Homo sapiens: one gene and its partners. The protein of the gene in region 1 interacts with the protein of each later gene in a pairwise test. Each region holds a gene or a part of one and is shown in the gene's direction. Other genes may lie near its edges.

What was found.
Region 2: the proteins of YWHAG (region 1) and TMEM176B interact in binary tests that used the Homo sapiens proteins (3 or more experiments, as listed by UniProt).
Region 3: the proteins of YWHAG (region 1) and DRD1 interact in binary tests that used the Homo sapiens proteins (3 or more experiments, as listed by UniProt).
Region 4: the proteins of YWHAG (region 1) and TMT1A interact in binary tests that used the Homo sapiens proteins (3 or more experiments, as listed by UniProt).
Region 5: the proteins of YWHAG (region 1) and CHCHD3 interact in binary tests that used the Homo sapiens proteins (3 or more experiments, as listed by UniProt).
Region 6: the proteins of YWHAG (region 1) and CRTC3 interact in binary tests that used the Homo sapiens proteins (3 or more experiments, as listed by UniProt).
Region 7: the proteins of YWHAG (region 1) and NDUFA5 interact in binary tests that used the Homo sapiens proteins (3 or more experiments, as listed by UniProt).

The regions. Positions count from the first base shown.
Region 1 is NC_000007.14:76,352,492-76,355,991, reverse strand, and holds part of YWHAG (14-3-3 protein gamma), read left to right. Parts: intron 1-3,500. UniProt on the Homo sapiens protein: Adapter protein implicated in the regulation of a large spectrum of both general and specialized signaling pathways. Binds to a large number of partners, usually by recognition of a phosphoserine or phosphothreonine motif.
Region 2 is NC_000007.14:150,790,801-150,794,082, reverse strand, and holds the end of TMEM176B (transmembrane protein 176B), read left to right. Parts: intron 1-11; coding exon 12-122; intron 123-482; coding exon 483-539; intron 540-767; coding exon 768-995; intron 996-1,907; coding exon 1,908-2,027; intron 2,028-2,459; coding exon 2,460-2,552; 3' UTR 2,553-2,782; downstream 2,783-3,282. UniProt on the Homo sapiens protein: May play a role in the process of maturation of dendritic cells. Required for the development of cerebellar granule cells.
Region 3 is NC_000005.10:175,441,383-175,445,509, reverse strand, and holds the start of DRD1 (D(1A) dopamine receptor), read left to right. Parts: upstream 1-1,327; 5' UTR 1,328-1,811; intron 1,812-1,927; 5' UTR 1,928-2,410; coding exon 2,411-3,751; 3' UTR 3,752-4,127.
Region 4 is NC_000012.12:50,930,512-50,933,008, forward strand, and holds the end of TMT1A (thiol S-methyltransferase TMT1A precursor), read left to right. Parts: 3' UTR 1-1,997; downstream 1,998-2,497. UniProt on the Homo sapiens protein: Thiol S-methyltransferase that catalyzes the transfer of a methyl group from S-adenosyl-L-methionine to alkyl and phenolic thiol-containing acceptor substrates.
Region 5 is NC_000007.14:133,075,591-133,079,090, reverse strand, and holds part of CHCHD3 (MICOS complex subunit MIC19), read left to right. Parts: intron 1-3,500. UniProt on the Homo sapiens protein: Component of the MICOS complex, a large protein complex of the mitochondrial inner membrane that plays crucial roles in the maintenance of crista junctions, inner membrane architecture, and formation of contact sites to the outer membrane.
Region 6 is NC_000015.10:90,536,423-90,539,922, forward strand, and holds part of CRTC3 (CREB-regulated transcription coactivator 3), read left to right. Parts: intron 1-3,500. UniProt on the Homo sapiens protein: Transcriptional coactivator for CREB1 which activates transcription through both consensus and variant cAMP response element (CRE) sites.
Region 7 is NC_000007.14:123,544,319-123,547,818, reverse strand, and holds part of NDUFA5 (NADH dehydrogenase [ubiquinone] 1 alpha subcomplex subunit 5), read left to right. Parts: intron 1-1,001; exon of another isoform or gene 1,002-1,161; intron 1,162-2,142; coding exon 2,143-2,208; intron 2,209-3,500. UniProt on the Homo sapiens protein: Accessory subunit of the mitochondrial membrane respiratory chain NADH dehydrogenase (Complex I), that is believed not to be involved in catalysis. Complex I functions in the transfer of electrons from NADH to the respiratory chain.

The DNA.
Region 1 (3,500 bases):
ATTTTGAAAAGAAGGAAAGAGGAATGTTAGGTCTTTTAAGACAGATGTTTAGTCTTGTATTGAAGGAGAGTGAACACCTAGATGTATCCTACGTATTAGACAATACTGTCTTGTCCTTTGACTTTTACTAGTCTCTTGAGAAGTTAATATTTTAAATAGGCTACTGGTACTTGCCTTGGGGAGAAAAGGTTCAGGGTTACTAATTTTGTTGAAGTTACTGAGTTAAGCAGTTTAACTCAATGAGGGGTGGGAGGGCAAAGGTGGCAAAAGGCTATCATAATTTTTCTAAATATTCCTAGTGGGATCAATAGACTTTCAAATTCTTTCTATCTTAAATATTCCATTCCCCCTCCCCCCCAGGCTCTTCCAGGAGATCAATAGCTATTATCACTAATGGAGTAATGGTACCTCTGTAGACTCTTCAGAGGTGGAGTTCTGCCAACCATTATTCTAAGTCATGTGGCTTGAATTGTTCTCTTCTTGGGCGTGGAAAGAATACAGATCATACAGCTTGCCTTTCATGTGTTAGCCTTCCCAGTAACTGAAGCAGATATTAAGTGCTTTTTCTGATTATTTTGGAAATCTATGTGTTTTTTGAATTCTACTGAGATTCAACATGGCGCTAAATGTTCATCCTCATTGCAGTCCTGGATTAACTGCAAACCTAAGAGTAGGATTTCATCTCTTGTACTCAGGGAAGCCTTATTTATTAAGCCAATCTTTAAATTATTGAAAAGAGTGGAGAAAACGATGTGTTTTTATCGAGGTAAAAGTTGCGTAACATAACTGTCACATAGTCACATCAGATTTCAAGTGCAATTGAGTGGCATTGGGTACATTCCGTGTTGTGCAGCCATCACCTATGTTGAAGAAGAGAGAAAGTGGTTATTTTTAAAAAGTGATGCCGGTCTGGACTACAGCTGGCTGGAATTCAGCACCTATTCAGGAATGTGTCGATAATGGAGTGCCCACAACAGCTCACAGCCAGCGATAATTGTCTATCCCTTTGTCTTCATTTCCAAGCGTCTGAACTGAAAAAAGGGAATTAGCTTTAGCTACGTTTGTACTGTATTTCCACTTAAAAAGTTATGGAACTTGAACACTGTATAATGTTCACCCAAATAAATAAGAACAATTTACTTGAAATCTGAGCAAATCGTTAACTCTTTGGGGATTATGGAAATTTTGCTGGTGTTCTAGTGACTCGTTTTCAGCCCTAAGGCTGGCTTTATTATCAGTGATTTGCCGCCTGTGTGGTAGTGGTTTCCTAATGAGTAGGATGCAGGGTTGAGACTGGGGAGCTCCTGCAGCATGAGGCTCTTAACTGATGGGACGCCAGCACAAGACATTCAGTACATTGTGGCTGTCAGGAGCTGGATGGGAAAAGTAGTTACTTTTCCCTTCTTTGCCCATTCCCAATATCAGCAGTCCTAACCTTATTTTATTTTATTGTATTTTATTTTAATTTTTTTGAGACGGAGTCTTGCTCTGTCACCCAGGCTGGAGTGCAGTGGGCAGTGGTGTGGTATCTCGGCTCACCGCAACCTCTGCCTCCCAGGTTCAAGTGATTCTCCTGCCTCAGCCTCCCAAGTAGCTGGGATTACAGGCACCCACCACCACGCCCAGTGAATTTTTGTAGTTTTGATAGAGACAGGGTTTCACCATGTTGGCCAGGCTGAGCTCGAACTCCTGACTTCAGGTGATCTGCCCACCTCAGCCTCCCAAAGTGCTGGGATTACAGGCGTGAGCCACCGTGCCCAGCCTCAAGGACCACTTTCTATGCTCGGTAGTCAAAGGGAAATACTACTTTTAAATGATATAAAACGTTATCTTCTCTTTGCCTTCTTTTGAAAGTTACTTAGTGTTTTACCAGATATTCCAGTCTATAATTATGTGTGCGTTTGATTGCTTGTTTTTTGTTTTTTTTTTTTTTGAGGCAAGGTCTCACTCTGTCACCCAGGCTGGAGCATGGCTCACTGCAGCCTCCACCTCACAGGCTAAAGCGACCCTCCAGCCCCAGCCACCCAAGTAGTTGGGACTACAGGAGCATGCTACCACACCTGGCTATTTTTTTGTACCGTTTTTTGTAGGAACGGGGTGTTGCCATGTTGTCCAGGCTGGTCTTGAGCTCCTGGACTCAAGCAGTCTGCCCATCTTGGCCTCCCAAAGTACTGGGATTACAGGTGTGAGCCACCACACCCAGCCCGGTCTATAATTATAATGCAGCTAAATGTTGCCTTTCTACAAAGGCTACCAATACCAGCTGCCTTATGGCCTCTCCTCTCAGAATTATTTTTCTGTATCTTCCCCAAATTCCATTTTAGGTGTCAGCTATCATTTTGATTAACTACCAAAACATATTATTTTACTTAAAATTGTCATTTGTAGAAATCTTGAAAATTTTGATATTTTGCTAAATGAATTTATGAATTTGAGTGGTAGAAAATTAGTTACACGAAAACTGATTTAAAAAATTCCCTGGGTCAGGCACGGTGGCTCACGCCTGTAATCCCAGCACTTTGGGAGGCTGAGGCAGGTGGACCATGAGGTCAGGAGTTGGAGACCAGCCTGACCAACATGGTGAAACTTGTCTCTACTAAAAATACAAAAAATTAGCTGGGCATGGTGGCATGCACCTGTAATCCTAGCTACTTGGGAGGCTGAGGCCGGAGAATTACTTGAACCTGGGAGGTGGAGGTTGCAGGGAGTTGAGATTGCACCACTGCACTCCAGCCTGGGTGACAGAGCAAGACTCCATCTTGAAAAAAAGAAAAAAAATTCCCAAAAGAAAGCTTTAATTTTAAGGTAAATAGTTATAAATAATTGGTTTGCTACCATGATTTTGTAGAAAAAATAAAAATTGTAAATCTTAAAAGACCATGTGCATGAGTCTTTTCTTTCTGTTTAAAGAACTGGTGAAGTCTTAGTTAAATTGCTCCCAGCATTTCACTTGTTAAGTGTGTGTCCTACAGAAATAGACTTTTCTTTACCTGAGTTGAATACTACTAATATGTGCTGCATGGCATTAAGTTTTGGTTATGGGCCGGATGTAGTGGCTCACGCCTGTAATCCCAGCACTTTGGGAGGTCGAGGTGGGTTGATCACTTGAGGTCAGGAGTTCAAGACCAGCCTGCTCAACATGGTGAAATCCCATCTGTACTAAAAATAACAAAAATTAGCTGGGCATGGTGGCGCATGCCTGTAATCCCAGCTACTAGAGAGGCTGAGGTAGGAGAATCACTTGAACCCAAGAGGCAGAGGTTGCAGTGAGCTGAGGTCATACCACTGCACTCCAGCCTGGGTGACAGTGTGAGACTCTGTCTCTAAAAAAAAAAAAAAGTTTTGGTTGTGAATAGGAAAGAGAGTGTTCTTACATAATTTAGATTTTTAACATAACATTAAAACAATAAAATTATTCCAAATAAACTCTTGGGCTTCTTAACCTTTGGAAGGGTACCTGTCTTTGGAGAGAGAAAGCCCATTTTGGTGAGTGGGACCCA
Region 2 (3,282 bases), about 74 Mb from region 1:
CTGTCTTGCAGGTGACTCAGATATTGCTGGGGGTTGTGAGTTGTGTTCTTGGAGTGTGTCTCAGCTTGGGGCCCTGGACTGTGCTGAGTGCCTCAGGCTGTGCCTTCTGGGCGGGGTCTGTGGTGAGTAAGGAACAGGCTGTGAGCCTGGAGGGAGGCAAGTGGTGATGGGCAAGAAGGCGCTTATGGATCTTGGTTGGGGCTTTGGGGAAGCGACCAAAGTCTCTGGAGCCAAATGGCCTTTGGCCATGAGGAGGCTGCTCTGGGGTGTAGCTAAAACCCTGTCACTTCCATTTTTCTCTTGAAGACAGATGGGAGGGGTGGGGCAGGTATAGGTGGAATCCTGGTCTGTGTGTCAGAGTTCTTTGTCTGTCCCTGGGATCCTGCTTCACATTGGCTATTCTGGGAACTGCTGGTGGGAGGGTGATGATAGACCAATTCAGAAGAGTAAACTGGAGGCCTTTTTCTGGTGTCTCTTTTCAGGTGATCGCAGCAGGAGCTGGGGCCATTGTCCATGAGAAGCACCCGGGCAAACTTGCTGTGAGTCTTGGACACCCTCTCTCCACCTTGTTCACTGACCCCCTCCTGAATTCTGCTCCATTATCTGTCTTCTGCCCTTTGGTTGTCAATATCTTGGGGTCTTTCTTGGAGGGGAGGAGAGGGTTTCCTGGACAAGGGCTGGGGAAGAGGAGAGGGATTTGAGGCGGGGACCTCATGACTCTTCCACCGATTGAAGGAGCGTGTGTCATGACCCTCTTTCTCTTCCAGGGCTATATATCCAGCCTGCTCACCCTGGCAGGCTTTGCTACAGCTATGGCTGCTGTTGTCCTCTGCGTGAATAGCTTCATCTGGCAAACTGAACCCTTTTTATACATCGACACTGTGTGTGATCGCTCAGACCCTGTCTTCCCTACCACTGGGTACAGATGGATGCGGCGAAGTCAAGAGAACCAATGGCAGAAGGAGGAGTGTAGAGCTTACATGCAGATGCTGAGGGTGAGCAGGAAGAGTCCAGTCTTCGGGGACCCATCACAGCTCTTTTTTCCCAGGGAGCTGGGGGCCCTGGAGGACAGAGATGTAGGCTCTTTGAGCTTGGACTTCATGCTGGGTCTTTCATTCAGGAGGTTTTAATGTAAGCTACAGACATTTTTCAGACCTCATGACACGAAGATTCTCTGAATCAAGGAGGGTGAGGAACAAAGAGGAGACATTTCAGAGAGGAGATAGTGGGTCACCCTTCTGGCTTTTCTGGTGTGTTGGTATCACAGTTTTCCATTACTGAATTAAAAACCACACCAAAATGTAGTGGCTTAAAATGACAACTTATTATTTCTCACGGTGCTGTGAGTTGGCTGGATTCAGATGAGCCATTCTCACTCACGGGTTTTCTCATGCAGTTACAGTCAGATGGGGGTGAAGTTATCCAAGTGCTCGCCGAGGCTGGAGGTCTGAGATGATGTAGTTGCATGGTCCGGAGCTCAGCGGGGGCTGTCAGCAAGAGCCGGCAATGGCTTCTCCACTTGGCTTGGGCTTCTCATAGCACAGAAACTGGATTCCAATGGGGAGTACCCTAGTTGCAAGCATTTCAGGAGACAGAAAGTAGAAGCTGCCAGACCAGCTAAGGGCTTCCCTGTCACTGTATAGTGTCACTTTCACTGTGGCCAAAGCAGTTCTAGGCCCTTCCAGATTCTACGGGTTGAAGGAATAGTCTCCACTTCTTGACAGGGAGTGATAAGTTCACTCTGCAGACAAGCCAACGGGATGGAAGCTGTGGCTGGAAACACAGTCAGCTGTGGTGGGAGCAGCAAGCTGGATAGAGTCAGTGCCTGGGTGGGTGGAGAGGGTGGTGATGTGGGCAGCATTGGAGTAGCTGACACCTGACTATCTTTGTTCTTCCCTTATCTCCAGAAGTTGTTCACAGCAATCCGTGCCCTGTTCCTGGCTGTCTGTGTCTTGAAGGTCATTGTGTCCTTGGTTTCCTTGGGAGTAGGTCTTCGAAACTTGTGTGGCCAGAGCTCCCAGCCCCTGGTGAGTTGTCGGGGAGGGGCCTCTGGGCAGCGTGAGTCTGGGTGGTGAGTGTGTGGGACAGGTAGGAGTGCGGGGCCAGGGGCACCCGAACCTGAGGCTGGGCCTGGTGCCCCTCAGCTTCTTTCCATATGCAGCTCTCCCCTTTGCTGTCTGGGGAATGTGGCCATCACCATGGTCCTGGGCCAACTGTCGCCGCCCTGTGCCTCTCTGCGCCCTCCTCTGCTCTGATCTCCCCACTCTCCCCTCTGCCCTGTCCCAGGTGTTCGTCTGACTCCCCTTCCTCTGCCACCTTGTTTTTTTTTTGCCTGATCTGCTTTTCCTGTCACCTTTTCCTTTCCCTCCTCCTTTCCTCTTTCTGCTTTCTGAGTTCTATGATACTAACTCTGCCTGCATCCTTTTCCCCTAAGGATTTCTTTTTTCTTTTTTTTCCAGAATGAGGAAGGATCAGAGAAGAGGCTACTGGGGGAGAATTCAGTGCCCCCTTCGCCCTCTAGGGAGCAGACCTCCACTGCCATTGTCCTGTGAGCTGCCAAAGACCCCACGGGGTGCCCGCATGTCCCTGTCTAGGGCAGCCCAGGGCCCCCACTCCTGGCTCCTCACACTTGCCTCCCCTATGGCCGCTCTCCAGACCCTCCTCCTTTCTTCTCCCCACATCCGCACCTGCTGTTCCCACTCTGGGGTTCTCAAGTCCATGAACAGATATTGTTGCATTTTCCACAATGCTGATTAAACATAATAAACAATCCAGAAAAGCAGTTTTGCCCAGAAAGATATGGTTTCCCTTTGTTTATACACCTCGTGCGCCATGAAAGGCCTTTCTTTGTGTCGCTATGTATGAGGTTAAATGGGAGCTGATTTATCCCATTAAAACACTGTCCCAAGAAGATTAAATTTAATTATGTTCTGCTGTACATCCAGGTGGCAAAACCCCTTTTTATGATTTTCTTCAATTCAGTGTAAAGTGTAAGTCTAGTGGGCCTAGAATCTTCTTACCTGCTGAGATTGTCTAGGCTCCTACAACCTCGGCCTGTAGACTTAAGAGAACTGTGTGGAGCATGGAATGAGATTTTTGCCCCCTCCCTCCCTGTCTTCCTTCCTTTCTCTTTTTTCGTTTTGCAGTAATTAGTGTTGGTTCTGTCTCTTTTCCTGTCTCCACACACACATAAACACATCCTTAGTCTTCCTTCCTTTCATTGTAAATGATAGCAAACTGATTTTGACTTTTTCCATTTTCTTTATATATGAAGATATAACA
Region 3 (4,127 bases), on another chromosome or scaffold:
TCTCACCTGTGAGCTTGCCTGGGGCAACCAGGGGAGGCTGGGGGCTCCTTCTCCACCAGGCCCCGCTGCCTCCATATGACTCTTCCCTGTATTTTAGCCCTGTAGGTAATTTTCCAGTTTGTGGGCTCCTGTACCACATGCGGTGAGTTAAAAGAACAGGTGGGCAGCGGCGCGGCTCCCGCGTGAGCTGTGTGACTTTGAGCAGGCCCCACTACCTTTCCGAGCCGCATTTCCACCTGGGCGAAGCGGGTTGAGCCGGCCTGGCGGGGAAAGATTCTTTTAACGGGGGAACAACGTAAGGCGTGCACCGGGGAACACGGATGCTGCTGAGTCAATGCCCGCTCTGCCGTTCTCTTTGAGAGTAAGGCTTGCGTCTCGCCTGCTCTAGCGCCCCAGGTTTGAACGCAGTGGGCGCGCAGGAGGAAACATAGATTCACGAATGCAATGCCAGCAAAGTAAAATTTTTCACCCTTGTCCGTTTTTCAGGGTGTTTCAAGCGGAGGAGTCCTGAGTGGAGAAGATTCCGCTTCCCTGTTTTCAGGTTCTGGCAGTCATGGACCGGGAAGAGCGAGTCGGGGCGCGGGTCCCTGGCGGTCGCTGGAACCCTTGTGAGTGAGGTTGGTGCCCGCGAGGGCACAGCGGGCGCTCGGGAAGTCGCAGCCGCCGGCAGAGGGCGCCCCGGGCACACGGAGCGCGCGGCGCTGGGGTTGGGGCGCTCGGGAGGTGCGGGGCACCGGCTGGAGTCCGGCGTTGACCGCAGCCGGGACGCGCCCGCCACCTGGGCGGGGAAGGAGTGAGTCCCCTCGGGGCGCAGCGGCGCGCGCTGGCCCGGATCCCAGCTGCGCCGCGCCCTCCCTGCGAGCGGTGAGTACAGGCGCCCACGGGCATCTCCAACCCTAGTTAGGGGACACTTGGAGACAACGCAGGTCGGACGTCCGCCGGCCGTTCTAGGAGTTGGTGTGCGGGGAATGGGGGGTGCTCCCGCTCGCTTAGGGCTTTGGGTCCGGCTAGGGGTTGACCCCAAGAGGCGCTGGATGTCGGGGCTGAGCTTTGCTTTCAGGGGACTCAAGCTTACTTGAGGTTCTGACATTGGATTTGCCTCGCGGGCCCTGCGCGTGCTGCGCGGGGATCCGGAGACTGGCGAGGTAACCAGGGAGGGCAAGCACTCACCGGGGCGTCCTCCGCCCACCTCGCCCGCAGAACCATCCAGGGGGACCACGTGCGGCTGTCGCCCGCAACTCTGCCTGTCAAGCGAGGACCGCCCCCAGGGCAGGGGAGGGGACGCGCGGGCGGGGTGGGCTGTGCCCCGCGGGAACCCCGCCGGCCTGTGCGCTTGCTGGTGCCAGCTCGGCTCGCTGCCTCGCATTGCCACAGGCTCCTGAGAGGTCGCGGGCAGTGCCTGCGGGGAGGCGCGGGGCCCTGCTCTGTAGGGCTGAAGGCCGCCCGAGGTTCGCCAAGGCTCTGGGCTCTCGAAAGGAAGCCAAGAAAAGAAGCTGCCCAGGTGACCAGTCCTGGGAGTGCTCTCTCCCAAGGAAGCTCCGAGCGCCCAGGAGCCCTTAGCCGGGGTCTAGTGCCCTTTGAACAATCTCCAGCTCTTCAAGGAAGTGGGCTGCCGCCGCCTCTCTTGGGACCTGGCCTGGGATCCTTTCCCCAAACGCACCCCGGCGATTTTTGCGCACCGGGAGCCGAACCCCTGCTGCGCGCAGCTGGCTGGGCTCAGGCGCGCTTCCTCAACGTTTCGGAGCCGCTGCCCCCAGCGAAGTCCACATTCCAAGCTCCAGGGGCTTTGAGAGAGACGACCCCAAGGCAAGGTAGGTGGCTCGGACGGGCTCGCCCTGGGAATTATTAGGTTGGGCTTGACGTGAGTAATGATGCCATCTGCTTAAGTCTTGGAGAAAGACCGTGTGTTTTCCTTTTGCTTTTTAAGGCGTTTGGAGAGCTGCTGAGGAGCCAGGGGCTTGGAGGAGCGAGAAGACATGTATTTTCAGCTGAGTCTCAGAAGGGGAGAATCTCCTGTCACCACCAGAAAAGCAACAGCCCCGAAATGTGATTGCAACTGACTAGCAGAGCAGAGGCCCAGGAGTCACTGGATTGATGATTTAGAATATGCTAAAAAGCCAGTGCTTTATTTGGGGAATTCAGGGGCTTTCTGGTGCCCAAGACAGTGACCTGCAGCAAGGGAGTCAGAAGACAGATGTAGAAATCAAGAGTGACCATCCACGGGATTGACTTGGATTGCCACTCAAGCGGTCCTCTCATGGAATGTTGGTGAGGCCCTCTGCCAGGGAAGCAATCTGGCTGTGCAAAGTGCTGCCTGGTGGGGAGGACTCCTGGAAATCTGACTGACCCCTATTCCCTGCTTGGGAACTTGAGGGGTGTCAGAGCCCCTGATGTGCTTTCTCTTAGGAAGATGAGGACTCTGAACACCTCTGCCATGGACGGGACTGGGCTGGTGGTGGAGAGGGACTTCTCTGTTCGTATCCTCACTGCCTGTTTCCTGTCGCTGCTCATCCTGTCCACGCTCCTGGGGAACACGCTGGTCTGTGCTGCCGTTATCAGGTTCCGACACCTGCGGTCCAAGGTGACCAACTTCTTTGTCATCTCCTTGGCTGTGTCAGATCTCTTGGTGGCCGTCCTGGTCATGCCCTGGAAGGCAGTGGCTGAGATTGCTGGCTTCTGGCCCTTTGGGTCCTTCTGTAACATCTGGGTGGCCTTTGACATCATGTGCTCCACTGCATCCATCCTCAACCTCTGTGTGATCAGCGTGGACAGGTATTGGGCTATCTCCAGCCCTTTCCGGTATGAGAGAAAGATGACCCCCAAGGCAGCCTTCATCCTGATCAGTGTGGCATGGACCTTGTCTGTACTCATCTCCTTCATCCCAGTGCAGCTCAGCTGGCACAAGGCAAAACCCACAAGCCCCTCTGATGGAAATGCCACTTCCCTGGCTGAGACCATAGACAACTGTGACTCCAGCCTCAGCAGGACATATGCCATCTCATCCTCTGTAATAAGCTTTTACATCCCTGTGGCCATCATGATTGTCACCTACACCAGGATCTACAGGATTGCTCAGAAACAAATACGGCGCATTGCGGCCTTGGAGAGGGCAGCAGTCCACGCCAAGAATTGCCAGACCACCACAGGTAATGGAAAGCCTGTCGAATGTTCTCAACCGGAAAGTTCTTTTAAGATGTCCTTCAAAAGAGAAACTAAAGTCCTGAAGACTCTGTCGGTGATCATGGGTGTGTTTGTGTGCTGTTGGCTACCTTTCTTCATCTTGAACTGCATTTTGCCCTTCTGTGGGTCTGGGGAGACGCAGCCCTTCTGCATTGATTCCAACACCTTTGACGTGTTTGTGTGGTTTGGGTGGGCTAATTCATCCTTGAACCCCATCATTTATGCCTTTAATGCTGATTTTCGGAAGGCATTTTCAACCCTCTTAGGATGCTACAGACTTTGCCCTGCGACGAATAATGCCATAGAGACGGTGAGTATCAATAACAATGGGGCCGCGATGTTTTCCAGCCATCATGAGCCACGAGGCTCCATCTCCAAGGAGTGCAATCTGGTTTACCTGATCCCACATGCTGTGGGCTCCTCTGAGGACCTGAAAAAGGAGGAGGCAGCTGGCATCGCCAGACCCTTGGAGAAGCTGTCCCCAGCCCTATCAGTCATATTGGACTATGACACTGACGTCTCTCTGGAGAAGATCCAACCCATCACACAAAACGGTCAGCACCCAACCTGAACTCGCAGATGAATCCTGCCACACATGCTCATCCCAAAAGCTAGAGGAGATTGCTCTGGGGCTTGCTATTAAGAAACTAAGGTACGGTGAGACTCTGAGGTGTCAGGAGAGCCCTCTGCTGCTTTCCAACACACAATTAACTCCGTTTCCAAATACATTCCAGTGTATTTTCTGTGTTGTTCATAGTCAATCAAACAGGGACACTACAAACATGGGGAGCCATAAGGGACATGTCTTTGGCTTCAGAATTGTTTTTAGAAATTTATTCTTATCTTAGGATTTACCAAATAGGGCAAAGAATCAACAGTGAACAGCTTCACTTAAAATCAAATTTTTCTGGGAAGAAAATGAGATGGGTTGAGTTTGCTGTATACAA
Region 4 (2,497 bases), on another chromosome or scaffold:
AGGCAATCCACCCACCTCAGCCTCCCAAAGTGCTGGGATGACAGGCGTGAGCAACCGCACCCAGCTTAAGGTTTTTTTGTTTTGTTTTGAGACGGAGTTTTCGCTCTTGTTGCCCAGGCTGGAGTGCAATGCTGTGATCTCAGCTTACCACAACCTCCACCTCCCGGGTTCAAGTGATTCACCTGCCTCAGCCTCCTGAGTAGCTGGTATTACAGGCATGCGTCACCACGCCGGCTAATTTTGTACTTTTAGTAGAGATGGTGTTTCCCCACGTTGGTCAGTCTGGTCTCAAATTCCTGACCTCAGGTGATCTGCCTGCCTCGGCCTCCCAAAGTGCTGTGATTACAGACGTCAGCCACCATGCCTGGCCTGAAACCTTTTTTAGGTAAAGTTGAATTCCATCCTTAAAAGTTTCTGTTATATCCTATTTAGCCATTTTCTATTGTCTCCCAAAGAATTCACATCAAAAAAACAGCTTTGAACTCCCCCTTCAAAGGAAACAGTCGACTTTCATAATTAGCATCTACCATTATCCCCAAATCTTATTTTATTCATTGACTTGAAATTTTTTCCAATTGCTTTTTTTTTTTTTTTTTTAAGGTTAAGAGCAGAGGTTTACTAGGCCAAAGAAAGAGAATAGCTCTCTGTTGCAGAGAGGGGTCCTGGAGAAATGGGTTACCCCAGTTGTCTTATTTAAATGGTTACCCATCAGATTTTAATTTTATCTTCTCTTTGAGAGCTTGGTAATAAGAAGCACTTAAATCACTCCAAAGAAGACTTTAAAAAGGGAGCAGTGAAAAGGTCTTAATAATTTATTGATTGAATTAAGAAATACTAGCTAATTAAGAATCTGAGTCTAAACAGCACAGATTTTTTCTTTCTGCTTTTAAATTGTGTTTTAAAAAAAGAGACAGGGGGCTGGGCGTGGTGGCTCACGCCTGTAATCCTAGCACTTTGGGAGGCCGAGGCGGGTGGATCACGAGGTAGGAGTTAAAGACCAGCCTGGCCAACATGGCAAAACCCTACTAAAGATACAAAAAAAAAAAAAAATTAGCCAGGCGTGGTGGTGGGTGCCTGTAATCCCAGGTACTTGGAAGGCTGAGGCAGGAGAATCTCTTGAACCCAGAAGGCGAAGGTTGCAGTGAACCGAGATCATGCCATTGTACTCTAGCCTGGGTGACAAGAGCAAGACTCCGTCTCAAAAAAAAAAAAAAAAAAAAAAAGAAGTAGAGACAGGGAGACAGGGTCTCACTGTGTTGCCTAGGCCGGTCTTGAACTCCTGGGCTCAAGTGATTCTCCCACCTTGACCTCCTAAATTGTTGGGATTACAGGTGTGAGACAGTGCACCTGGCCGAAATAGCTCAAGTTTCTGAAAAACAAATCTGAATCTATTTGTTATTCTTAGCGTCACTGGTCTGGCTTTCAGAATTAACATACAAGGTTGCCACACCTAGTTCTGCCCAGCTTTATGTCTTTTATTCCAGTATTCCACCAAAGTTTGTTTTCCTGCATTCCAGTTCTCAAGTCTTAAGATAAAGATTGTACTTGACAGTTTAGTATATCCATAAAACTATTTGAGGTGGTTAAGGTTCTTGGGTTCATTTTCCTTAATACTTTGCTGAATATTGTAGATTGTAGGCAATGAAAAAGTCTACTAAATTAGGAAAACCTTGAATAATTAGGTATCCTAGGTAAGAGCCCCTAAACATCAAGCAATCTGTGAGTCTGTAAAGAAATAAATATTTTTTGGATTATTCTTATCTAATTCCACCCCTGTTGGAAGATGATTTCTTTGTTCTTTGCAACTATGGAAGCTGTGAAAATCATCACAAGTGCCTCTGAAAGCGAGTGTTAGGTTGGTTAGAGGGTTTAATATTTTCTGCAATGGTTTGTAGGAATTTTAATAAATGTAGTATATTTTCTGAGATGATTTTGTAAAAGTACTATTTTAAATATCAAATCAACCAATAAATTCACATTTGTGTTAGGAACAGAAATATGGTTTATATCTTTGCTGGCTTGGTTTCCTTTTTCTTAATGTCTCTGGGAGGCTTATTCCTTCATTGTGGAAATTTTAGCTATTTAAACATGTAAATTTTTCTTTCTACAGCCAGGTAACTATAAACACAGCCAATAGATTTTACACAAAGCAATCCTAGAAGTATCAGAATGGGTTTTGAAAAGTTCAAGTCCATCATGTGATCATGTTTGGCTACTTTAAAAAAGCAAAAAAGTTCAAGTCTAACGATCCCATTTGTGAAATCCACAGAGCAGAAAGAAAGGAAGCTTTTACTATTTTAACTATCTCTTGAACGTGAAAAGTTATTGATGCAGTGAGGTCGAATGCACACCTACTGCTTCCTAAGCTCTGGAACATGAATCTCCTTCCTCTGTCATCTCCCCAGAATTGGAACCTCCTTAATCCAACCATCTCACTATTGGTCAGTCTAGTGATTGAGAAATAGGAAAAGCCACAGGTTGAAATGATGAAATGTCA
Region 5 (3,500 bases), about 57 Mb from region 1:
AGGGTGTTTTTTTGTCTAGGTCTGTTGTAGATGGTTTTTATTTCTTTATATTTTTCTTGGCTTTAAATAGTCACTTTGTTCCCTTCTGAGACATGGGGAAGGATAAGAAACCGCATTCTCAGTATGTCCATAAGCCATTGTTTTTAGCTTAGTTTGTTAGAACATGGTGCCGATGAGGCACCAAACTTCAGTTTTGAACTGCAGTTAGGTTAGTTCAGCTTGGCTGAAGAAAACGTTCCAACTTTGACCAGTTGTCTAGCATTTATGTCATTGGTTGTAAGAAATGAAAGTTTACCAAGCTTACTAATTCAACAGAGGCAGTCACTGCTGGAAAGCTAATTCTGTGTTCTGTTACACTGTTAAAGATAGTACAGACGGTCTCCTGTTAGGATGGTTCGACTTAGGATTTTTTGACAGTGGTGTGGAAGTGACAAGCGTTCAGTAAACTCAGCTTCTGGCATTACCTTCAGCAAAATCCGTTGTAAACCAAGGAGCATCTATAATTTCATCTTCCTTTATTTTTTTCATATAATGACTTGGGTTCATTCCCTTAATATAAATATGTTGGCAATTATGAGGTTTTTTTGAGTTGGAGTCTCCCTGTGTTGCCCAAGCTGGTCTCAACTCCTGGGCTCAAGCTATCCTCCTGCCCCAGCCTCTGGGACTACGGGCATGTGCCGCTCCACCAGGCTCAGTCATCATTTATCTTAATGTATAAAGAATAACATTTAGTGAACAACATAAGGCTTTTGGTAACTATGCTGAATATTTATTTATTTATTTGAGACGAGTCTTGCTCTGTCACCCAGGCTGGAGGGCAGTGGCATGATCTCAGCTTGCTGCAACCTCTGCCTCCCAGGTTCAAGTGATTCTCCTGCTTCAGCCTCCTGAGTAGCCAGGATTATAGGCCTGTGCCACCATGCCCTGCTAACTTTTTTGTATGTTTAGTAGAGGGGGGTTTCACCATGTTGGCCAGGCTGGTCTCAAACTCCTGACCTCAAGTGATCTACCCACCTCAGCCTCCCAAAGTGCTGGGATTACAGGTGTGAGCCTCCACACCTGGCTGAATTTATTAATAGATTGTGTTTCTCTATATTGTTGAGGTCCTTAATAGCAATGAAAGGACCTACTTCAAATTTTAAGTTTAAAATTTCTTCTCACCTACCAGGTGTTATTTTTCATGGTATTGTAGGGTCTTGTTTTTTCCCTTTATCCTTAGCAACTGATAGCTTTTCTTCCCTCTTCTGTAAAAGTAACCTATATTTTTACACCTGATTCCAACTTTGAATCTGAAACTACTCTTATGGATTGGATGAGAGGTCACTCTTTTGCCTTGCCCTCTTCTCAAGGCTAAAATAAATTCCTAGAGAGGAAAGACCAAGCATTTTCATTACTCATATTACATGTGGTTGATAGGATTTTTGTGAGCACCTGCTGTGCCTGCTTGGAAAGTGTGCTTACAACTCTATCTTTCGCAAGTTTATCTGAAACATCAAAGCTGTGAGTGAACTCTTCTGGAGCAAATGTCAACTTCAATGAGTATCATTTTCAAAGATATATTTATCATGCTTTCCAGACATAAACGAATGTCCGCAGCTGGGCTTTAAAGTTGCAAGCTGAAATTCACAGGAGCCAGTTATGGCAGTATGGATACTTAATATGGAACGTAACTCATGCTTTGGGAAGTGTTGGCAGTTGAGAGACCGTAAATGAAGAGATTACTTAATATGCGGTATTACTGAGGATTCTGAAGAGAGTATGTTATCAGAGACTACAAATTCGGTCAGCCCTTGGGAGTGTTGAGGAATGTTGTGCAAATTTAGTTAAGTAGTGGATGATTAGTTTCTTTCAGCTTTAGATTCTATGAAGTTTTTGGCTACCATCTTAAGTTATCTAGGATTTTATAAAGGTAGGGATAATGGTTTCTACTAATGACAAATGTAAAGAAACACAGACATAAGCTAAGCATTACATATTTCATATATATCTATCAACATATATATGGGTTCCCTCTCCCCCTTTCTCTTAACTAACTATTTGGGAGTAATTTCTCCCAAATAATAATGGCAGTTTTTGGAGCCTATGTCTTAAAAAGGTAATTGTGAAGCAAACTAATACTCACACAGAAAATGACCTATGCTAAGTGGAAGGAGGATCAAGAGAGAAAAAATGGGTCTGAGTTCTTGAATCAATTTGCTAGGACACATCTGGAAGAAGATAAGATAAACTAATGGAGGCAGGAGGCTGATTTATTTGTCTCATGTGGCTCATAACTTTACCTCTTAGAAGGGCCACTGAAGAATTCCTCTTTTTTTACTCTGTTACCTGGGAGTAGAAATACTTTCTCTTTGTCCAACTCACCCAGTCTCCTGTTTCTGAGAAAATTCTTTCTTTTGGATTGGTGGGTAGTGTTTCTGGCACGGATTTTGGATAAGACCAAACAAGGTGGGTAGGAAGAGATGAGTGGGAAGACTGTAGGAGATGACACATGGCCTTTCCCCCTCTGTGGAGCACATTGGTGTGGTGAGTACCACAAATTTAAACTTGGCAAGCTCTGTTTGCTTAAATTTGTCTTTAGGAGCAATAGAGAATAGGGTGGACAGTCAAGTTCAGTGGGCTGAATATCGGCAGACCTGCTTCTTTTGATTGCCCCTTATATTAGAATGGTGGCTCTTTTAGTTCATAGAGCACTGTGGATCTGTAAGCTGTGGATTCTGGCCAGAACCATGCAATAAGCAGACAGTTTTGCATACAGTTGAGTAATTGACCCACGGACTACTCAGTCTGTGGACCTCAGGGTGTAATTCCCAGTATCAATGTGTGTGGGGATTATTTCACTATTCTTTGCTACAAATAATTTCTGTAAATTGCCCTTGGTATTTGCCTTGATGCAGATTCCAGAGATGTCTGGAAAGCAAGTATAATAGGTATAGGTCATTGTACAGGAAAAGGCTTTGCTTAAACAAGTGCCCGGTTCAGGAAAAGATATGTTTCCTGAAGAAGATACTTTTTTTTTTTTTTTTTTTTTTTTTGAGATAGAATCTCATTCTCTTGCCCATGCTGGAGTGCAGTGGTGCGATCTCGGCTCATTGCAACCTCCACCTTCTGGGTTCAAGCGATTTTCCTACTTCAGCTTCCCAAGTAGCTGGGACTACAGGCACCCACCACCATACCTGGCTAATTTTTTATATTTTTAGTAGAGATGGGGTTTCACCGTGTTAGCCAGGATGGCCTTGATCTTCTGACCTCATGATCTGCCTGCCTTGGCCTCCCAAAGTGCTGGGATTATAGGCGTGAGCCACCACACCTGACCGCAAGATACTTCTTACACAGAGGCTGCCATCGCAGAAGCTTGTGTTGTACTATCGACCCCCATTTTGGGTCATTTTTTATCAGAAAGATGAGTTGTTCTGCAGCTACAGATTGCGTGTATAATCCTGGCCAGCATCTCTAAAGCTTGTCAGCTGCTTCACGAGTGAGTACCCCTGTTCACAGAGGAG
Region 6 (3,500 bases), on another chromosome or scaffold:
AGGTGGAGGTTGCAGTGAGCTGTGATTGTGACACTGCACTCCAGCCTGGGCAACAGAGACCCTGTCTCAAAAAAAAAAAAAAATTGCTCTGACTATTCTAGGTCATTTGCACATCCATAAATTTTAGAATTATCTTGTCAATGTCTCTGAAAGGACCCGCTGGGATTTTGGATTGTAATCGTGTTGGCTATTGTGAGACTTTTCTCAAAAAGGAATTAATGAGGCCTGGATCTCATTTCCTGTAGGCATTAAAGAAAATTCCACTAAGATGTGTGACTGTAGGCCAAAGGTCACTAACTCAGTAAGTGAGGCAGGTAAGGAAAATGAATGGAGGGGCCAGGAATGAGATGATCATGGCAGCTGATCCTGGGCCATCGTGAAGGGATAATAGGGTACAGTGAGGACTTGGCAAACACGATCTAAGGGGGTGGCCTCTTCTCAGCTTCATCCAGCGATGCCATGCAAGAACATGGGTTCAGTGTTGTCTGATCTTTCAATCAGGAGAAGTTGGAAATCCATATTTTTATGCAGTGTCCTGATTTTTTCAATTGAAATTTAATACACTGAATGGGTCAACATCTGGTGGGTAAACAGAACACTCTAGGTGAAATGTGGCCTATGGGCTGCCAGTCTGTGACCTCGGCCTTAGGCTAATCATTCTTTGGTTCACATGTTCATCATCTGTAAACATGAAGGTGTTGAAGACAGTCTCAAAGTTCTTTTTCTAGCTCAATGAGTCTAAATTTCAAAAGAGGAAAATGTCAAAATAACTCAGAGTTTGAAGAGGTAGCTGAGATCAGCAATAATGATAATATCTTAAGTTGACCAGAGCTTTACATTTGACATACCACTCTTGTGTCTGTGTCATTTAATCCTCACTTTATCTTGTGCAGGAGGCGTCAGAGTTGTTTGCCCAACCACACGGGAGTTGCAGGTTACAAAGTCACATCATCCGATTCCAGGTCCAGTGCTTTTTGTTTTTTTAGAGTCTCGCTCTGTCGCCCAGGCTGGAGTGCAATGGCGCCATCTCGGCTCACGGCAAGCTCCGCCTCCCGGGTTCATGCCATTCTCCTGCTTCAGCCTCCTGAGTAGTTGGGACTGCAGGCGCCCACCACCATGCCTGGCTAATTTTTTTGTACTTTTAGTAGAGACAGGGTTTCACCGTCTTAGCCAGGATGGTCTCGATCTCCTGACCTCGTGATCCGCCCGCCTCGGCCTCCCAAAGTTCTGGGATTTACAGGTATGAGCCACTGCTCCTGGCCTTTTTTTTGAGACAGAGTCTCACTGTGTCACCCAGGCTGTAGTACAGTGGCATGATCTTGGCTCACTGCAACCTCTGCTTCCTGGGTTCAAGCAATTCTTCTGCTTCATCCTCCCAAGTAGCTAGGATTGCAGGCATGCACCACCACAGCTGGCTAATAGTTAGTAGAGACGGGGTTTCACCGTGTTGGCCAGGCTAGCCGTGTTCTTTTTTAACAGTCTTTGAAGGCTTCGGAAATAGGTGCTTTGGGAGGGAGAGCAGTTATGGGGGATTGTGAGACGGCCTTCAGCTCAGTTGAGGGCAGGTCCCTATCTGGATTTATAACTTAGTTTGGTTGAAGTGTCAAGGCTTTTGGGTAAGAGTTGAAGCCTTTGTGAGAACTCTCTGAAGGCAGGAACTTTAGCATACATTCATCTTAGTAAGCCAGTGCCTGGCATACTACCTGACACACAGTTAAGTTTTTGTATCAGTAAATCAATGGATAAATTGATCCTTCAAAAAAGAAATCAAAGGCTTTAAATCAAGATGGCTGAGAATTTTGTCCAGAGAATTTCAAGAATAGTCAGATGCTTCTGATAAGTACTTTTAGAATGTTAAGATTGAAAGCTGAGAGACTTTATTCCTATAACTCCACTCCTAGATGGAAAAAACACCATGTCGTCCTCCTCATGTTTGACTCTGAGATTTGGGTTTTGATTAATAGGTTATAACTGTCTCCCTGTGCAGTACATTTAAGAAATCAAATACAGCAGGTATAAGGGAAGTTAAAGCCACTGAAGGATTTCGTATGCCTTTAAAATTTCCAAACAAGTATAAGTCTTTATCTTTTGAGAATACATATTGAAATATGGAGTGATACCATGTCTGAAATTTCTGTCAGTGAGGCACTGCGGGTAGTGGAGAGGGTAAAGATGAAAGATGATTGTATATAAGTTGGTAATTTTTAAGCTAGAAGATGGATAGATGGGGTTTCATTATACTTGTCTTTATTTCACATATACTATTTGAAATCTTTCATAATAAATGTAAAAAGGAAATTATCAGAGAGCTTCATAGGTTCAACAATGCTTTTGGTAAACCAAACTTCACCTTTTTTTTTTTTTTGAGTTTGTAATTAGTATGATCATCGAGGGAAAGATGGGACAAAGGAAAAGAGCATGGCAGAAATGGGCATATGGGCTTTGAGGCTGACAGCCGTGGCTCAGCCTCCTGCTAGCCACGTGGCAAGTCACTGAACTTCCGAGTCTGGGTCTCCAGGTCTGTAACAGCAGGAGAGTACAGTCTCATTTGCATGGTTGTGGGGAGGATTAGGGATGAAGTGGGCCAAGTGTCCGAGAACAGCACCTGGCCCATCCTAGGGGCTTAGATCTGGTAGTGTTTTATTATTGTTAGAGACAGAGAGTGATGAAGGGTAAAAATCTGCCCCAGGGCTCTCGTCTATAACCCTTTCTTCTCTATATGAATTATAGTGCCAAGGGTTATGTAACCATGGAGCTAATTTATTATTTTAGAAACAGAACTCTTAAAGACCAGATCAGACCACTTTGAGATTTACAAGAACTGTAACCAGTTTATTGCTTTTTGAAAAATGAAGTAAGGAAGAACTTACAAAGAAAAGCATATTAAAATGGTGGGATGCCATTTTATACCTATTGAATTGACCTCCTTCCTTACCCCAATTAATGGTAATATCCAATATCAATGAGTTTTTTTGGTGAAACTTTTCTCATATGTATATTATAAACTCTTTGGGAAAGCATTTCGGCAGTATACGTTGAGAGCCACCAAAAGGCCCATATCCAGAGATTTAGTAATCACCCTTTGGAAGGTGTTCTAAGGAAATAATTCAGAAGAACTGTTATATACCCACTAAAAATTACTCTGTAATAGCATAGAAAAGGCTTATGATGAGCATGCTAGGTTGTACCTATCTTATGATCACAGCTATGCAGTTCTTACCATAAATGTAAACGGAGGCTGGAAAAGAGCATGAAGAAGGGAAAACAGCTAATGTGTTAGGGTTGTGGATAGTAGCTTAGTTTTTCTTTCAGAAATTCTTTTATTGTTGTTAAAGATTATGCCAGTGTATCCAAACATACACACTCAAAGACCTTGCAAGAGGACGTTACTATCATGGTATATGGGACATTTGGAACATGGGTAAGCTCTTTCCGAAAATAGAGTAATCAAAACCCAGAAAGCACCGGAAACCTTGAGGGTGTGATCACTTACGTCGAGA
Region 7 (3,500 bases), about 47 Mb from region 1:
CCATTGGTGACTAAAAATCACATTATTCACTATCGGTAAGACAAATTTTGAACTGTTCACCTAACACAGGCTTTTTCTGAAATGAAAGTGTCGTTGAACTTTCCTTGCCTTCTTTACCTTCACTCTCCTGAGTCTCTTATAACAGTGACCAGCTTCCCTGTTTTGTTTTTGATTTTTGGTCTCTCATATGAGTTAATTCCCTGTTAAATAATCTGTCTTAAACATGCTTATTACTTTTTCCCCTTTTCTCCCCCTTTCAGCTGTTTTTTATGTATTCACTTCTTTAACCAAGAAACATTTATTGAATGCCATGTATGGTTCTAGGCATGGAAACTTGTGCCTAGTTGGCACAAAACAGATAAAAATCCTTTCCTTCTTGGAGATTACATGTTAGTGATGGGAGACCAAAAGAAAAAAAAAAAGTAAAAACTGAGTAAAGACGTACATAGTGTGTTAGAAAATAGTAAGTGCAGTGAAGGAAAATAAAACAAGGAAAATGTGTGCCATGGTGGGGATAGGGGATGTTACACTATGTATTAATTTCGTATGGCTGCTGTAATATTCCCACAAACTTGGTGGCTTAAAACAATGTAAGTTTATTTTATTAGACTTCTGGAGGCCAGAAGTTGGAAATCAACATCAGGGACCCAAATCAAGATGGTGTTGTCAGGGCTGTGCTTCCTTTGGAGGATATTGGGTAGAATCTGTTCTTGCCTCTTTCAGCTTCTGGTGGCTTTTGGCATTTATTGGCTTGTGGTCTCATCACTGCAATTTCTGCCTTTGTGGTTACATTACCTTTTCCTTTTCTGTGTGTAATATCCCTCTGCCTCTCTCTTATAAGGACACTTATAATTGCAGTTAGGGACTATATGGATAATTCAGGAAAATCTCCCCATGTCAGCATCCTTAACTTGATCATATATGTGAAGTCTTTGCTGTATAAAGTAACACTCACAGTTTCTAGAAATTAATACATGTATATCTTTTGTGGTATTTTTCAGCCTATCATAATGCAAATTATCAGTAGTTAATCAATAAGAAGGTGTTATTTGAGCAAAGATTTGAAAAGTGGTGAAGAAACAAGTGATGCAGATACCCTGGGCCATCCAGCAAGATACCCTGAGGCAGTAACATATCACGTCTTGTGTTGAAAAGCAAAATGTATTATTTTCTCCCTCTTTATTCCATTTATTGGCCAGAAAAACACCCTGAAAAGACAAAGCCTTATTTACATATGTGGGTATATTTACAGAGCATGATTTCTGGCTCAAAAAGCTCAGTTTACTAGAAAATAACTAAATGTCATTGAATGTTCTAGGTACTATATTTATTAACATTTTGTTCTTAAAAACTTCTATTAAATAATTATATACATTACAAATGTGTAGAAAAAAAGGACTTTTCCAGAACAACAAAACCCTTGCCTCTTCCCCTTCAATTTACTACTTGTAAAGTTAATCTCTATTTGGACTTCTTTTTGCCTGTTTTTGAATTTTATATAAATGAAATCATTAGTATGTACTGTCTTATACATACTGTACTCTGGCTTGTGCTTAATACTGTGGTTAAGAGAATCACCTATATTGTTGCATACAGTTTATTCATTTTCATTGCTGTGAAGTATTATATCCAAATATTATAATTAATTGATCCATTCTATTACAGATGATCATTTGGGTTATTTCTAGTTTGGGGCTATAATTTGTGCTGCTGTGAATATTCTCAAACATGTTTTTTAAAAAATATATTATGCATTTCTGTTTGGCATTATGCCTAGAAGTGTAATTTCTGGGTCATAGAGTAGCATTTATTTCTAATTCTAATGCTCTCAGAGGAAATACAGGAAATATTAAGAAAGCAAAGTCATATTTTAAAATCTGTTTTAGGAAGACTGAATTTGACATTGTATTTCTGTCCCTTGATCAGCATGTCAATAAACATTTAGCACTTTTCAATATTAAGACAGAAAAGCAATGAAATAGCAGAGGTGAAATGAATTTTCACCAAATATTTAGTAAAAAGAGTATGATGAAAGAAAAGTTGTATTTTTAAGTGTTTTTATATAGGAATTTTAAAATATATAGGATATTGAAACATTCAGTTAGTATGCTTCTTTAATTTTTTTTCTCCCTGAAATTATAGGAACCAGATGTTAAAAAATTAGAAGACCAACTTCAAGGCGGTCAATTAGAAGAGGTGATTCTTCAGGTAAAGAAAAAGTTGACTATTTAGGTGTTTGGTTTCATAGAGACACACAACTGACGTTCTAGAATGAAAGGAAAACTAAATTTCCTTGTTTATATCAACTCGTCAAATATGTAAGACTAATCACATATAGAAAATGTGGTGCTTCTCATGTGTATGTTGATTATAGTATTTATTGTTGATTATAGCATGAATTTATGAGACTTCTGTTAGAAGCCTGGAGTTTGACACTCTTTTAATTTAATTAGCATGTTCTCCTTGGCCTAACCTTAGTTTAAATTGGTAGCACAATATTACTGTTGTTTTAATAGTTGTATCTTATTTTAAGAGTGTGGCATATTTTTAGTAGGGAAAAATACAGACATTTTGAATTATAAAATTAAAATGTACTTTTATTTTTATTTTTGGTTCTTGAGCATTTGAGCAAGTTAAAAAACAATTGCATAGTATATTTGAGAGCTTAATTCTACATTATTTCCCAAATACTAACCCTGACAAATAATATTGAGTAGTAAAATGTAAGCATGATTATGAAGAGACTGAGATTAGAAAAATTATTAACATTATTAATTACATTTAGAATATTTAAATCTTAAATTATTCTATTGGGAAATTTTCTTCTCCTCTCACTATACCTGCTGCTTATACAAGAGAACAAACACCGCAGTTTAGTTTTATTTAATCTGAATTTTAATTCTTTTCCTTTGGTCATAGTTAGGTTATAGAAATAGATAGGTTACTGATGTAAATAGGCTGGAAATATACTATTTTGAGTATTCCGTAGTTGGTTTTTTAAAGCATCTATGGGAAAATAATGATAACTCTTTTTTTTTTTTTTTTTTTTTTTTTAAGATTTGCATCTTTTTTCTCCAATTGCTAGTAAGGTTAAACTTTAAAAATATGTTCTTATATTTTATAAATTATGTCATTAATATTTTTACTGGGTCATTTAGTCTGGGTTATTTATACATGAGTGTCTTTTTATAATAAAAGATATTAACCTTAAACTTTTCTGACATTGTCTGCACATACTTTTTCTAGCCTGCTTTTGCCTCTCAAATGGGGTTTTTCCCCCATATGTAGAGGTTTTCAATTTTTTTTTTTTTTTTTTTTTTGAGATGGAGTTTTGCTCTTGTTGCCCAGGCTGGAGTGCAGTGGCATGATCTCGGCTCACCACAACCTCCGCCTCCCGGGTTCAAGCAATTCTCCTGCCTCAGCCTCCTAAGTAGCTAGGATTACAGGCATGTGCCACCACATCCAGCTAATTTTGTATTTTTAGTAGAGACAGGGTTTCT